Linked DNA regions of Homo sapiens: region 1 is linked to region 2. Evidence: fine-mapped expression QTL. A gene starts in region 2. The other region holds a variant in brackets. All regions are shown on one strand. Distances are from middle to middle. Region 1 overlaps AKT2 (AKT serine/threonine kinase 2). Region 2 holds the start of AKT2 (AKT serine/threonine kinase 2).

Region 1 (2,895 bases), 52 kb before region 2:
TCAGCAGGGCAGGCCAGGGCTCTGGTCCCTGGTCCCTTGCTGGGGGAGGTGTTCCATCCGGCCAGCGCCCGGCCATGCAGCCACGTGACTCAAGCACGGGAAGTGCAGGGGCCCAGACACATCCAGGCTAAAGGGCAGTGACTAGGGGAGGGCTGACCCCAAGCTGAACAGGGTTCTAACCAAACGCTCAGGAGCTCCCAGGTGACAGCAACCACGCCACCATGAACACACCACTGGGTCTGTACTGGAATTTGGGGGCCTCAAGGCTTCCAGGTGGCAGCATAAACAGGGAGGTGGGGCAGGATAGGAATGCCCCCCTCTGAGGCTCGGCAGCCGGGTGGAATGAACCACTCCCTCTCATTCAGTGACAGCACAGGCACCCTCCTCATTCTGGGCTACCCAGATCTTCCAGCCCTGTCCCTCCACCCCACCTCTCTTAGCCTAAGCAGCACTGAGGGCCTGGAGTGGTCTCTGTCCACCCCACCCCCACATGCGGGGAGCCTTCCCATACCCCTCAGCCCCACAGCACCAGCTCCACCCACCCTCTCCAGCCTGAGCTCCTGCACACACCCCAGCTGCCCTCACCCTGAGCTCAGTGCCCTCCTTGCTGAAGGGAACGGCTAGTACAGGAGGAGCTGGGGCCCAGGGGTCTGACTCCATCACCAAGGCAAAGCCCAGAGTGGTTGGGCTGGCGTGAGTGCAGGCTGGGCCCTGGTCTGAAATGAGTGTCTTTATTGCTTGTACCGTACAAATATGAAGACGAGGAGAAAGGCCAGTAGGGACGGAGAACTGTCAGATAACAACATCGCACACAGAGGAAAAAGACCCTCACCCACCCGAACCAACCCCACCCCTCCCCACCCTGCCATGAACTGTGTAGTACAGGAGATGGGATAGGGAGAGCAAACCCACAAAAGCTAAACTCCAAACACCCAGAGGTGTTGCTACAGGGAGGGGAGGCGTGGGCAGGGCAGCTCATGGATCACAGTGGGGCTCCTCCCACTAGGTCAGCACCCCTCCCCCACAGGATGAAATGCTCGGGCCAGGGATGGGGCCCAAGCCCACACACCATGCACACTGGAGGACACGCTGCCCTCACACAAACACACATGCACACACACCCACGTGTGCCTGCGTCCCGCCGACACACGCAGTCCGAGGCACGCACAGGAGTCCCACAGCACTGACATGGACGTGCACTCATGTTCAACCTTAAGGCTGCAGAACGTG[G/A]GGCCCTGGGGAGAGGGAGGGGTGAGGGGGGCCTAGGAGCCTCCCTTTTCAGAGGCCCCCCACCCCAATAGGTACCAGAGATGCCCACCCCCACCCCTCCCTGACCAAGTCCATGGGGCCCAATACTGTCCGGTGTAAGATTGTAACAGCCAAGGCTGGTGGCCCTCCACCCCCGCAGAGGAGAGGGTGAGCCCAGCCCATAGCCCCCAGTGGGGCCAGGCCAGGCCCAGGGTCCAGCGGGAGGTAAGGCCAGCTGGAAGGAAGCCCTAGTAAGGCACGGGGCTGGGAGGCAGGCAGGTTTGGCCCCAAATGTTCCTCCTGCCTCATCCATAGGGTGAGGACAGTTTGGTGGGGAGGAGGCCGGACCAGGAGGCGGCACCCAGCCCGGCCACTCCTGGTTCCCCATGGTACAGATCCTAGGATCTGACTCCATTCACCAGGGAGCAGCCCTAACCCCCAGCCCTGCAGCTCCCAAGGGCCCCTGCCTGCCCCTGGACATTATTGCTTTTCTGCCCCCATAGGGGGACAGCGGGTGGGGGATTGGACCGCCCCGTGCCTGGCCACTCCGAGCCTAGGCCACGGGGCCTGGAAGGCAGCACCACTGTCTGCCGGGTGTCGCGTCCCACCAGAAGGCAGCCTTCGTCCAGATGCAGCAGCGCGGAGGCAGACACCAGCACGACACCCAGGCCAGAAACTCAGGCAGGCCCCAGGCGCCATGCTTCACCCCTCACTGGGGCTTGTGTGGATTAAAACCTGAATCTCCAACCGCCCAACAGCCCAGGCCTGGGCGGGAGGTGGAGTCTTCCAAATGCGAGTCTGGGCACAAAGGTGAGGCTGGAGGCTGGAGGCAGGGGCTGCAGGGGCCGCTGGGGTGCGTCTGGGAGGGGCCTGAAGAAGAACTGGAAAGGGGGTGAGGAGGTGGGGGTGGGGACACAAACCAAAAAGGCTAAGTAAAAAGTTAGGGGGAAAAAACCACCCAGCGGTGATGGCAGCGAGCGTGCGTCCTCTGCGTGGGCAGACTGCTCACTCGCGGATGCTGGCCGAGTAGGAGAACTGGGGGAAGTGGGTCCGCTGGTCCAGCTCCAGTAAGCCCAGGCTGTCATCTGTGGGCGGCAGAGGTGGATGGGGAGGACCAGTCAGGAGAGGGCCTGGGACACCTGCCCAGACTCCCTGGGGAAACGGCCCCAGCTGGCGGGGGCTGCCCACAGGACAGGACAGGAAAGGCCCATCCCTCCGCAATGGAGGCCCTCAGCCACGGACCCACTCCCCAAACCTGAGCCCCGGGCGGCCTCCTCTGGGAGTTTCCTGTGCCCTTGCCCATGCGCCCCACAGCTGGCAGGGCCTTCTGAGCCTCCCACCTTCTCTCTGCCCCACACACCACCATGCCAGAGTCCAGCCCAGAGCCCTGTCCTGGCCTGCCTCTCGCACCCTCCCATCCATTCTCCACGGGCAGCCAGGGGGGCTTTCTAAAGGCCTGCTTTAACCCTGTCCCTCTCTGTATGAAACCCTTCCATGGCTGGCTCCCGCCATGCAAGCAGTCCCCACCCCTCCCAGTGGCCCCCAGACCCTTGCACTCCAGCCCCATGCCCTCTCTTCTCACCACCATCTCCCTGGCTGCTGCCGGTCCTTAGCTATGCCATGCTTCTCCCATTGCTGGCATCCCAC
Region 2 (2,895 bases):
GGAAAACAGCTCCCGGCCTCACTGCAAGGCCAACTGTTACTGCCTTGGTGGGGAGTGTAAACATGATGTGTGACCGAGCTGGTAACTGGGAGACACAAACAGCTTCGTGGCCAGCGACAGAGGAGCATGTAGTGGTCTGCGTTGGTTCCTGGACCCTTCACATCCACTGCCAACCAAGTTCAGCCCACGAGTGAACTCCTGCTGCTTCTCTGGGAAGGTAGGAGTGGATGAAGTTGAAAAGCAGCCCATTGGAGGCTCTAGTTACTCCAGCCCAGGCGTCTTGCTGAGCCCCAAGAGGTCTCCAAATGAGAGGAAGAGGTCCTCACAATCCCAAGATCAAGATGCCCCCAGAGAGCTTCCCTGGGGGGAAGAGGTGTTCCCCCAAACACTCCTTCCTCCCAAGTTTTAACAAGCGGGTGCAGGGGCACGGCTCCTCAAATCCAAGCCCAATCCCTCTTCCTCTTCAGAATGTTAAGGCTCAGACAACTTCAGTGACTTCTAACACAGCTTTCCTCCCTCCCCTATGGAAGGAAAGAACTGTTACTGCCTGGTAAATAATCTGAGAGGGTAATGGAATCCAGAGCAGCACCTCCATGGTCCAAAGCACCCCAGTAACCATGACGTTCCCTCCAGAGTCGTTAAGAAGTTCAATAAAGGCTGAGATCAGTGTAAACCCCCAACGCCACACACGTCAAATACAGGAAACAGAAACCCCTCCTCACCAATCGGCATCACAGTCCTCCCAAAATACGCCCCTAAAACCCACTAGGGCCTGTCCCGCCCCGTCCCAGTCCCTTAAAGATCACAAACATCACAGTCCTCTGATTTGGGTTCCCCTACGTTCTAAGCAGGGCTCCCCCAACGCCGTGGTGATATAACCCAGCCACAGTTGGGGAAGCATCCTCCCCAGAAGCCCCCACCCCTGTAAATACAGCACAGCAACGGCTTCCACAGCGCCAAAAAGGTACAGCCCTCTACACTTGATGCGGCGCGCCCCCTCGATAGCTTAGCCCGCGCACGCCAGGCTCGATCTGCCCGCCGCGCCCGAAAGGTCCAGCCCCCGGCCCGCGCACGCTGCGGCCTGCGCTCCCCGTCCCGCAAACTTGCAGCGCTCCCCCCACCGCCTCAGTGGTATGGCCCGCCGCCACCGCCCCGGCCCCCCGAGGCTGGTCCCACCGCCCCCGCTCGGCCACCCCCACTCAGCTCCTGAAGGAGGGGCTCGAGGGCCGCGGTCCCCCCGCCGGGCACGGGTGGTACAGCCCATCGCGGCACCGCGGGGGGCCCGGACGCGACCATCGTGGGGGGGGCGTTCGGGGACACGCGCTGGCGCACTCACCTGTCACCGGCAGCCGCCCAGCCTCTCCGGCGGGGCTCTACCCCCGCCCATCGCCACGCTGCGCTGGTTCCCTTTCCTTGTGTTTCCCGGCAGCGGCAACGGCGCCGGCAGCGGCAGCGGCGGCGGCGACGCCTCCTCCGAGGCAGGCCCAACGGCTAGCACGGCGCGGCCCCCCCCGCCCCCTCCCCCCAGCCCCCGCTTACCGCCCCCTCCCACCCTCTGGACGGAAATACCGCCCTCTCGCGCCACAAACAGGAAGTGACGTACAAAGAGCCAGAGACGAACTCTGAGAGAGCGAGAGCGCAAGAGCAGGGCAGAGAAGGAGGCGGGCTCACAGCAGGGCGCCTGCGCACATTAGACAACTTTGGGCCTGTGTGGGTTAGAGATGGGCCTCGCTAGGCCGTGGGGCGGAAAGGCGAGATGGGGCTACGCAGGCGCACTAGGACTCCGACGTCTGCTTTCCCTAGGGCCTAGCCGTAGTGATTATTTCCCGGCAGCCCCTAGTCCGTATTTACATACGCTTTGATCTTGTTTTACTCAGTTCTGGGTTCTGACGCTCTTAAAGGACCCCGGAGCGGGAGTTAGTTAGGAGGGGTTTCCTTTTCAGTGTGCTCGTCATGGTTGAGCTCAGGCTCTGAAGCCACACAACCCCAGACTTGAATTTCCTCCTTTCTGGTGACTGTGGGCAGAAGGCTTGACCGTTTTCTGTGCCTCAGTATCCACATCTGCTAAATGGAAACAATCATCGCTGTGTCGCTGGCTTTTGAACCATTTTAATGTAAACAAAACGGTTTTTACCAATTAGTTCATTACTGCAAGATATTAATGCCACCTGCTCTCATCGTACATATTCCAGTGAATCTGGGATATAACATTTTATAATGCAACTTGGGCCCATAAAGGCCTTAAAATCACCCTGCGGCCGGGCGCGGTGGCTCACTCCTGTAATCCTAGCACTTGGGGAGGCCAAGGCAGACGGATCATGAGGTCAGGAGTTCGAGACAGCCTGGCCAACATAGTGAAACCCCGTCTCTACTCAAAATACAAAAAAAAAAAAAAAAGCCGGGCATGTCGGTGTGTGCCTGTAATCCCAACTACTTGGGAGGCTTGAGGCAGGAGAATCGCGTGAACCCGGGAGGCAGAGGTTTCAGTGAGCCGAGATCATGCCATTGCACTCCGGCCCGGGCGACAGTGCAAGTCTCCGTCTCAAAAAAAAAAAAAAAAAAGAAAAGAAAGAAAAAAGAAAAAAAATGACCCTGCAAGAAAAGAGCTTTGCACAGATCCTAATCCGTATATTAGCTAGTATACTGGACAGCTGTGAGACATCTGGCTCCCAGCCCCTCCTCTCTCATAGGGGATTGTGCTGCCTCCTGAATTTGGGTTCCAGTATGCCATATAACTTGGCAATTGTATGCATTGGTAAGTGAGAAAAATGCCTGACTGAGAGTTGAATCCTGGGTCCACCTCAGTCTGTGAGAGTGTTTCAGGCAAATCCTGCTGAGGGTTCGGCTTTCGTTTTCTGAGACGTAAACCTAATGCTGGAACTAGCCCTTTCTTAT

Evidence for each region. PIP is the estimated chance that this variant, and not a neighbour inherited with it, causes the effect.
Region 1: its variant is the best candidate, but not a certain one, in a credible set for the expression of AKT2 in whole blood (INTERVAL, PIP 0.86).

The regions. Positions count from the first base shown.
Region 1 is chr19:40,231,619-40,234,513 of GRCh38, forward strand. It overlaps AKT2 (AKT serine/threonine kinase 2), which reads right to left. Exons shown (of 14, transcript NM_001626.6): 14 at 1-2,333. The coding sequence ends at 2,254. Among named protein-coding and RNA genes, the nearest start is that of CCNP, 6.4 kb to the left of the region's middle. The variant G/A (reference allele first, on the strand shown) is at 1,231.
Region 2 is chr19:40,283,845-40,286,739 of GRCh38, forward strand. AKT2 (AKT serine/threonine kinase 2) reads right to left here and starts at 1,501. Exons shown (of 14, transcript NM_001626.6): 1 at 1,337-1,501. RefSeq lists enhancers at 526-665, 1,822-2,653 and a silencer at 1,036-1,535.